Linked DNA regions of Homo sapiens: region 2 is linked to region 1. The links come from fine-mapping of genetic effects on gene expression. A gene starts in region 1. The other region holds a variant in brackets. All regions are shown on one strand. Distances are from middle to middle.

Region 1 (5,511 bases):
GGCCACAGTGGCACAGCAGATTAGGTAAGGGAGAAAATAATAGGAGATTAAATCAGAGGAACAGATAATATAGAACTTTGGTTAAGGACTCCAGCTTTTACTTTGGGTAAAGTGAAAAACCACTGGAAGATTTGAACAGAAATGGAGGAGTAGCATAACTGTGGCTGCAATATGGAAATTGTACAAAAGGGGAGCAAGGACGGAAGCAGAGACATAAGAGGAAATAAGTTTATGTCTCTGGTAGATTGGACCAGGTGATGGTGAAAGGGTAAGATTTAAGATAAGTTTTGAAGAGTAGATGGGATTTGTTGTAAGATAAGTTTTGAAGAGTAGATGGGATTTGTTGATGGGACTAAACAGAGTTGGGTTAAGAGAGGAGTCAAGGAGAACTGAAAGGTTTTTTAGCCTGAACCAAAGGAACAATGAGATTGACATTTACTGGGTTGGGATGAGCATGGGAAAACAGATTTATGATGGAAAACAAGGAGTTCAGTTTGCCATATTAAAATGAAGATATCTATTACAAATCTAAAAATATTGATGTTGAATAAGCAGCTGTTTTCTGGACTTTAGAGAAGACTAGGTTGGAGATACAAGTCTGGCAGTCTTAAGCATATAGATGGTATTTAAATTATGTGAATAGACATAGTAAAACGTGTAGACAGACAAGAAGGTCCAGAACCAAATCCTCGATTCACTCCATCAGTTAGACATTTCCATCTCATACCCCGTATTCTTATAACTGGTTTAATTTTTAAAGCTATCACTTACTACATAAGCAGTTTCTAAAGTCATCAAGAGCACCAATAAGACACAGCAACAAAACTAAAAAAGAGTTTGTCATTCAAACCTCCTCAAAAGAGAAAGGAAAGAACTCCATCCACGATCACAGAAATACTAAGAACTCAAAACATTCCCAAATATAGAGGATATAAAGTCTAGTGGTTAAGTGCGGGTACATAGGTCCAAGCTGTCTGAATTTTAATTCTTGTACCAACACTTAACTATTTGTGTGACCTGGGGCAAAGCACTTACTGTGCAGCTTCCTAATAAGTTGGGGATAAGTCATTCGGTTGTTGCGAATGAATTAATACCTGAATTTTTGTGCTCAGAATGCTAGCTATCTTACTATCATTGACTATCATTGACACTAAATTGTTGAAACATAAGTTGAGAGTGGGAGATCCTGCAGCTAATCACACTAATTTTTCAATTTTCTTAACCAAGAACTTGTAGCTGTTTAGATTTCGAAATGAAACCAAAACATTTTCCTAAAGGCAATTCTCTTAACTAAAAGCATGCAGCTCCCAATCTGAATTTTAAAACAAGGCCAAAACACGTTCCCAAATTCCTAAGAATCTAAAATAATCTTTAGAGGCAGGGAGGGGAAAGGGGCGTTAACAGCAAGCCTCAATTCACACATTAGAGTAAGCATGTCTGATAACAAAGTCCATCTGTGACAGACTACCAGGCCCAAATCCCTCTAAAGCAGTTATTTGATTCTCTTCTACTCTCTCCTCTAGAGAATGAGTATAAATATGCTTTCGAAAATAGAAAGCCAAGCTTTTGAATGGGAGTACATACAGCAAAGAGCTGGGAATCTAACTTAATGGCAGCAACGGGAAAACTTCTCCAGAGAGTCACCACTTATTCCTTTTTTCCCCAGTGACCAAGAGCACCGTGGGGTCAAACTCCTCTTGGGTGGGTGATGGGGAAACGGCGACCTTCCCTCATCTGGCCCCTACGCTGTCCTCTGGTAGCAAAGCTCCGGTGCAGAGCAGCTAGCTACACTCCCTCTCTCTCGCTCCTCTCGCTGGTATCTGGTGCCCGGACGGGGAGCCCCAGGTTCCAGCCTTCGGCTGCCTGGCTGGAGGACACACAGCAGAAGAAACAATAGGGCCGTGGCGGCCGCCGTACCTCTCCCGGTCGCGGCCGTCGAAGTAGACGAAATCGCCGCTCTGAACGCATTTGGCGCAGGTCAGCCGCCGGCGGGTAGTGTTGCACAGCGGGCAGCGCTCCACAGCCACGTACAGCCCCTCCGCATCGTCCACGGAGTCCACCAGGTCCCGGGCGAGCGGCCGGGGCCCGCAGCCAGGAGCCTCCAGCGCCCGGGCTCCCTTCCCACTGGGAGACGCCATGATGGCCTGAGAGGAGAGCCAGTCACGTGGGATTTTGTTTTCAACCGGGTGCATTCTGGGCCAGGAGGAGGGGCCTGGGGAAGGGGGGCTGGGATGCCGGCGAGCCCCCGGACCCCTCCGCCGCCGCGTGTTCCTGTCCCGGGCACTGTTGTTTTTCCGGTCTGCTGAGGGGCAACAGGTCCCGAAGCAGGGGGAGAGTTATATTAGAGGGGCTAGTCGGCCAAACAAAATGTCATCTGCTGGCTCAGGCCAAGACTACGAGTTAAAGCCTCAAACTTGTGCAGAAAATTGTAATACCATACCCTAAGGATTCTGGGAAAACGGAATGGGAGCGGAATAAGGGAATTTAACTTGCTGTGGATGCTTTAAAATCTGGCTAAACTACAGCAAACAAAGTAGGGTGAAGGGGCTGGGTCTTGGAACTAGGTTGAATTTTGGCTCACTCACCTGCTTAATAGCTGTGTGACTTGGGGCAAGTTCCTTAATCTCTCTGCGCCTGTTCTCTCGTGTTAAATGGATAGAATTATAGTACCCATCTAATGCCGTGAGGATTAATATGGTTAATAGTATTATACTTTACCAATAGTGAAAACAACCAAAGTGAACGTGCAAAATCAGAATTGTATCCTTCTGAAAAGTTAATCACGTGGCTAACGTACCTTCCCTACCCTGGGCCATGCTCTAAGAGAATTTGAACTAGGTAGATGGTTAGGACTTCCCTTCAAGTTTCTTTTGGTGGATAGGGGATATATAAGGTGATGTGTTGGGAGGATCATATCAGAGTAATTAGTGTTTGAATATGCCTCTAAACTACAGAGAAAAGTGAGTTTATAGGTGAGATTAAATAGACCAGTGATTCTCAAGGATGATTTTACTAGGCTATCTACTGATAAACTGCCCTGAATTCTCTCTCTAGCCAGGATTCCTTTCTCAAGTTCCATACCCAAAGATCCAGAACTACTTACTAGGTATCAGGTGACATTCCAGGACACCACAAACTCAAAGTGTTGGAAACTGACTTCTGCCTCCCTACAAACCTGTTTTCTTACTTTGGTAAAGGACGTAATCACTGATGATTTACAGCCAAGAGCCATGATTCATATTAGCCCGTCCCTCCCTGTTAATCTCCACATCACCATCGAAAACTGGTGATTCTACAAGCTAATTAGGTCTTGAATCTGAGCCCTTTGCTCCTCCGTCTTCTTAATCTTACCCAGTCTTTTTAAATACAAATCACGTAGGATTACAAAAACAAGCAAAAGCAAAAATTCTCTATATTCAGAATACAGTTTACACTAAACTTGAATGGTTCCTGAAAGTTTAAGATTTATTTTTAAGTGAGAAGTCTTTCTCTCTGATCATTTCAAACAAAAGGATTATTTTTTAAGGTCTCGGGCTTATGTTTCATTTGTATTCAGACAGGATCCTTCACAGTGCTTAATACCTAATGATCAGGATCAACTGTTCAATATTTTAAAAGGCAAAAAATACACATTAATTCCTATCGTGCTAGATGATATCACAGATAGTATCTAGCTTATGCAGTTATTTGAAACTCCTATATGTTGCTATATATTTTCAGAGAACGCATATTAATGTATTACTTAACAGCAGAGCACTGAGGTTTTTGGATACAAAATGTAGTTTAAATATTTCTTTAAGGGGAGGGGGCGGCGCCACACTTCTCAATGAAGAGAAACATTTGTACAGTTCAGAATTTTTTTTGACACCTATTATGCCATGAACTCATAGGGAATAGGTTCCAGCAGCCCAGGCTCCCTCCATTGGTTCTAAGTGCTTGTCTGGGTGGAGCAGGCTGGCGCTTCAGTTGAACTCAGACACCTCTCCCTTTGACGTCTTTTTCTGATTATTTACCTTCACGCGTTTCAGGAAACTTACTTGGCTCTTAGAGTGCCAAGGCCCAGGCAGATGGATCAACTGAGGTCAGGAGTTCAAGACCAGCCTGGCTCAGTAAGCACATTCATTCTCTTGGCAAAAATCTTGCCCTTGTTTACAATGCCAACAGCATGCTGGGTAACACTGTAGACTCTTCCAGCTTTGCTGTGGTAACATTTGCGGAGCACTCCTTTTTGAAAAGCAGCCATTCCCTTGATGTCTACAATATCACCTTTTTCGTAGATTCGCATGTATGTGGCCAAAGGAACAACTCCATCTTTTCTAAAAGGCCTAGAGAACATGTATCAGGTGCCTCACCTCTTTCCCTTTGTGTTCGTCATTTTGGCAAATTACTGGAAGATGGCCCTTCCGGCTAAAAGGAAACGCATTGAGTCTTCATGATGCTACAATATCATTCTAGTGAGACCCTAAATCTCTCAAATTTTGAAATGTTTACTTGTTCAGTTTTTAAAATAACACAAAAGGAGTCATTTTGAATAAGAATTTTTCTTCGTTTCTTAGGTTACTTACACAGAGTCGCCCTTTAATAAGTAACGTACTTGTAACATCTACAATTAAACGTAGAAGAATCCAGCTGTTTCTGTGCTGGGCTTATGGACATATTCAAACCAGAATAATGTGAGATGCTGAATGATATGCTCAGGCTTTTTTAAAACCTTTTAGAATAGGATAGATGTTTTCAAATGCTTCATAGATCTCAGAACGTTCTTTGGCACCTATAAAGAAATCCAGGTTTATATAATTTTTAATATAAAAATACCAACATTTACTTAAACACTAAAATTTCATTGTATTGTCTCCAATTACTTTTAATATGACATCTCTTTAGCTGTACCTGAGAAATGGCATTTATTCCGGGTAAATAATTTGGCAACTACAGCCATATTTCCACAAGACAGAAACCTTAGAGCAGAGTTTTCTAGAACTTCTCTGTGGGTGTCATCTTTGCTCACACAGTGCTCAGTATGAAATGTGGAATGTTATCTCTACATGTGCCATGAATATGGCCTCAGAGTAATTTCATCAGCACCTGCGGGCACTTAGCTACCAGCAAAAGGGACTTCTTTTGATCCACGTCCTCTCTAGTTAACATCTTGATTCCCTAATATTGATAACAGATGGAGACAAATGAGCTTTAAATTTGTTTTAAATTTTAGTTTAAAATTCTAAATTTAAAAGAGTTTTAAATTTTAGTGCATGGGAAGGGATTATTAGAGGGGAAAACTGTACTACTGTCACTCGTAAAGTCTTGTTTCAAGAAATTGTAAATCATAACTGCTGTAGGAATTACAGGGATAAAAACATGAATCAAACAGTCTCCACCATTGAGAAGTATTAGTCCCTACTCATCTCTCACCAACAACCAAACACCACCATTACCTCCAGCTTCCAAATTATGCAGGCACGTTGTGCTAAGGGTCATGTACTTGTACTACTTATATTTATATGGAGCTTC
Region 2 (5,000 bases), 21 kb before region 1:
TGTTCAGTGTGCTGCCCTAATTCTCTAGTTTAGTAATCCCGTGAAACTCCACGTGAGCACTTTATTAGGACAAATGTTTTCAATGGAAGCTTTACACCATTACATGCCACTATAAAAGACTTGCTTCTGGAAGCAATGAGTAGACAAGAAAAAGGGATTCACGAGGTCTGATGGTGACTCATTCTAAACTTTAAACAGTGATCTTCAGAAATTCATGGACTGCAGCTTGCTGCCGGCACTCATTTAATGTTACATAAACATGCTCTTTGAGTCTGAAGTAAATCTGATTTTCAATGTGAAAATAAAATATAAAAACTGCTCTTGGAGTTATTTCTAAACAGAACTTGTCTCTAATCCTAATGTAATAGAAATGTATATGATGTTACATTAGGATTAGAAACGAGTATTCTTGGGGCAAATGGGAAGTGGCTTAAGGATGTAGGACTTCTAAGAGAATTCATTTTGACAACGATCTATGATAAAGTATAAAGTGTACAAATATGATGTAAGATTAATACAGATTACAATGTGGAGACTCACTAAGGGAAAAAAAAAACAATATTCTGTGCTTCTGGCATGGGCCAATAATTATTACAAGTGAGTACCAAGTTAAGACTCTGAGCTTCCTGCTAGCCAAGGCAAATGGGAACATACATTCCTTAACTTTTTTTTTTGAGACAGAGTTTTGCTCTTGTTGCCTAGGCTGGAGTGCAATGGCACGATCTCAGCTCACCGCAATCTCCGCCTCCCAGGTTCAAGCAAGTCTCCTGCCTCAGCCTCCTGAGTAGCTGGGATTACAGGTGCCTGCCACCACGCCCGGCTAATTTTTGTATTTTTAGTAGAGATGGGGTTTCACCATGTTGGCCAGGCTGGTCTCAAACTCCTGACCTCAGGTGATCCACTCCCCTCGGCCTCCCAAAGTGCTGGGATTACAGGCATAAGCCACCGTGCCTGGCCAACTTTTTTATTTTTTTCTTTTGAGACAGAGTCTGGCTCTGTGCCCAGGCTGGAGTGCAGTGGCGCAATCTCAGCTCACTGCAAGCTCTGCCTCCTGGGTTCACACCATTCTCCTGCCTCAGCCTCCCAAGTAGCTGGGACTACAGGCACCCGCCACCACACCCAGCTAAGTTTTTGTATTTAGTAGAGACGGAGTTTCACCATGTTAGTCAGGATGGTCTCGATCTCCTGACCTTGTGATCCGCCTGCCTCAGCCTCCCAAAGTGCTGGGATTACAGGCGTGAGCTACCACGCCTGGCGCCTAACTTTTTTAATTGAGAAAAGAATCTGGTTATTTAAGGCCTCTGAAATTGTGTATTTAACTTTTAAAAATTCCTTATACAAATGTTTTACAAGGAAAGATGAGGGCGAGTAGTAAAATTCTCCAAGTTGCCACTGCCCCACCATCCCCTTCCTTTCTGTGTCCCTCTAGTTTATTAATCCCATGAAATTCCACATAGGCACTTTCTAGGGCTGGAAGGAAGGACACGAATTACTTACTTTTCTCCATTTCTTCATTTCCTTTACATATTGTTTGTTTTAACTGTTCAATCCTCATCTTGCAGGACATTATTTTCCATCTCTGAAAAAAGCATGTAATAAATATCACAAACGTTGGTCTCTTATGGTTAATATGATTATCTACCTGGGATCACTGCTTATTTTCAGATATGTCAGAAAACATAATGAAGAAAAAGACCTTATGTTATAGCTTTTGTAACTATGGAACATTACGAAAAAGAGAACGATGTTTTTCTAGTTCAATGCAGAGAAAAGAGAAATTAGGCCAGTGCGGTGGCTCACGCCTGTAATCGCAGCACTTTGGGAGGCCAAGGAGGGCAGATCAAGAGGTTAGGAGATCAAGACCATCCTGGCCAACATGGTGAAACCCCATCTCTACTAAAAAAATACAAAAATTAGCTGGGCGTGGTGGCGCATGCCTGTAATCCCAGCTACTCGGGAGGCTGCGGCAGGACAATCACTTGAACCAGGGAGGCGGAGTTTGCAGTGAGCCGAGATCACGCCACTGCAGTCCAGCCTGGCAACTGAGTGAGACTCCATAAAAAAAAAAAAAAAAAAAGGAAAGGGAAATTACGAGAAAGAAATTCACATAGTTTTGTATGTATCAGTAAGCAAAGAGAAAAAAGTTGAAGGACATTCTCTAAACC[C/T]GCTCTAGCTATATAGCTACTAGCCACATGTGGTTACTTAAAACTCAATTTAAATCATACAAAATCAAAAATTCAGTTCCTTACTCACACCACCCTCATGTCAAATGTTTGACATCACATATGGCTAGTGGCTAATGGACTGGACAGCGCAGATACAGAACTCAAGCATCATCACGCAAAGTCCTACTGACGTGCAGCTCCAAACCTCTAGTTCTGGTTACTGAGGAGACGGTTAACATAACCAAGTCATCTCACCCAATAAGCAACTAGTACTTGCAAGTTAATAAAAATGGCAAAAAACATTATTTTTTCAGTGCATAACTCAAGTAAGATTTCCTGAAAAGCCTCAGAAAATTATATGAAACATGAAATTGACTCTTTATATTACCAGGAGTTAGGTTCAGCACCCCCTAAAGCAGTGGTCCCCAACTTTTTTGGCACCAGGGACCAGTTTTGTGGAAGACAATTTTTCCACGGACAGGGTGGCAGATGATTTACAGGAATGAATCTGTCCCACCTCAGATCATCAGGCTTTAGAGTCTCATAGGAGTGCACAACCTAGATCCCTCGCATGTGCAGTCCATAATAGAGTTCGCACTCCTATGGAAACTAATGCCACCACTGATCTGACAGGAGGTGGAGCTCAGGTGGTAATGCTCACTTGCCCTACTCACCTCCTGCTGTATGGCCTGTTTCCTAACAGGCCACAGCCCAGTAGGTATATGTGGCCTGGGGGTTGGGGACCCCTGCCTTAAAGTGAACAAAGGATCAATAAAAATAGGATCTATGGCCGGGTGCAGTGACTCACACCTGTAATCCTAGACTTTGGGAAGCTGAGGCAGGCACATCACTTGAGCTCAGGAGTTCGAGGCCAGCCTGGGCAACATGGCGAAACCCCATCTCTACCAAAAATACAAAAAATTAGCCAGGTGTGGTGACATGCATCTATAGTCCCAGCTACCAGGGAGACTGAGGTGGGAGAATCGCTTGAGCCCAGGAGGCAGAGGTTGCAGTGAGCCAAGATTGTGCCACGGCACTCCAGCCTGGGTGATATAGCAAGACTCCACCTCAAAAAAAAAAAAAAAAAAAGAAGGATCTACTAGTTAGTTAAAAAGAATGATTATTCTCTAATGACTCCGTAAAGTGAATAATTAAAAGCTTAAAACAATGCTCAAATGTTCATGGTGTTACACTTATCTAAGTAGTCTGATGGTAAGAGACACAGAACAGATTACAGGGATGTTATGGTGAGCGAAACTCTAACATCTCGAATAGAGTCAGACATTCAAAAACAGATCCACAGGGACTGAGGGGTTCAGAAATATATCAGATATGACCTATCCTCAATTTTAAAAGGTAACAGAGTCTTTAGAAATGAATATTGAAGTCTTAGATAGAAAAACTAGAAACATTACAGAAAACTCAGGAAAATCTTCCACAGAACATGTTTTGTTTACTAAAACATTCAGAGAATAAGCAAAATTCACTTCTATCACAAATTTTAAGTATAATGAAATATATGACTGGGCGCGGTGGCTCACGCCTGTAATCCCAGCACTTTGGGAGGCCAAGGTGGGCGGATCACGAGGTCAGGAGATTGAGACCATCCTGGCTAACACGGTGAAACCCCGTCTCTACTAAAAAAACACAAAAAAACTTAGCCGGGCGTGGTGGTGGGCGCCTGTAGTCCCAGCTACTCGGGAGGCTGAGGCAGGAGAATGGTGTGAACCCAGGAGGTGGAGGTTGCAGTGAGCCGAGATCGCGCCACTGCACTCCAGCCTGGGTGACAGAGCGAGACTCTGTCTCAAAAAAAAGAGGAAAAAAAAAGAAATATATGAATAATGTTTACTGTTGTGAAAAAAAATTACACATTACAGAAGAAAAACAGAAAATGTGACTGTTAGCCTGACTCCTTCCCATTTCTCAGGGGTAATCCTTTAAAATTAAAGTTTAATGTGTATCTTTTCAGATTTTTTTTTTTTTTTGAGTCAGGGTCTCACTCTGTTGCCCAGGTTAGAGTATGGTGGTGTGATTACAGCTCACTTCAGCCTGACCTCCCTGGCTCAAGTGATCCTCCCACCTCAACCTCCCAAGTAGCTGGGACTACAGGTATATACTACCATGCCTGGCTAATTTTTGGTTTTTGTTCGTTTTTGTAGATATGGGGTTTTGCCATGTTTCCCAGGCTGGTTTTCAATTCCTGGGCTTGAGCAATCCACCTCGGACTCCCAAAGTGCTGGGATTACAGGGCATCCACCACCACACCCAGCGCAGATTTTATAAGAGTATATTTATATTTAAAATACATAAATGAAATCATACTTTATCCTAGTTTATTATTTTTTTCCATTAATAAATACAACTTGGACATCATTCCACAGCACGTAGACTGACCACATTCTTTTTAACAACTACACAGTATCATAATTTTTTTTTTTTTTTTTTTGAGATGGAGTGTTGCTCTGTCGCCCAGGCTGGAGTACAGTGGCGCAATCTCGGCTCACTGTGATCTCTGTCTCCTGGGTTCAAGTGATTCTCCTGCCACAGCCTCCTGAGTAGCTGGGATTACAGGCGTGTGCCACCATGCCCAGCTAATTTTTCTATTTTTAGTACAGATGGGGTTTCACCATGTTGGTCAGGCTGGTCTCGAACTCCTGACCTTGTGATCCACTTGCCTCAGCCTCCCAAAGTGCTGGGATTATAGGCATGAGCCAACGTGCCTGGCCCTTTTTTTCCTTCATAATTGAGATTTCACTGGTTGTGTTGAAGATCAGTACACAGACATTTCAATTTGTACCCAATTCTTAATATACATACCCAAAATCTAAAAGCCAT

What was found. PIP is the estimated chance that this variant, and not a neighbour inherited with it, causes the effect.
Region 2: its variant is the best candidate, but not a certain one, in a credible set for the expression of ATG14 in whole blood (TOPMed, PIP 0.57).

Annotation. Positions count from the first base shown.
Region 1 is chr14:55,409,685-55,415,195 of GRCh38, forward strand. It overlaps ATG14 (autophagy related 14), which reads right to left and starts at 2,146. Exons shown (of 10, transcript NM_014924.5): 1 at 1,918-2,146. The coding sequence starts at 2,138. TBPL2 (TATA-box binding protein like 2) reads right to left here. Exons shown (of 7, transcript NM_199047.3): 7 at 4,526-4,771. The coding sequence ends at 4,695. It also overlaps a transcript of FBXO34 not described here and the pseudogene RPL21P6. RefSeq lists a silencer at 2,136-2,435.
Region 2 is chr14:55,389,414-55,394,413 of GRCh38, forward strand. ATG14 (autophagy related 14) reads right to left here. Exons shown (of 10, transcript NM_014924.5): 4 at 1,498-1,579. It also overlaps a transcript of FBXO34 not described here and the pseudogene HMGN1P1. Among named protein-coding and RNA genes, the nearest start is that of ATG14, 20 kb to the right of the region's middle. The variant C/T (reference allele first, on the strand shown) is at 2,166.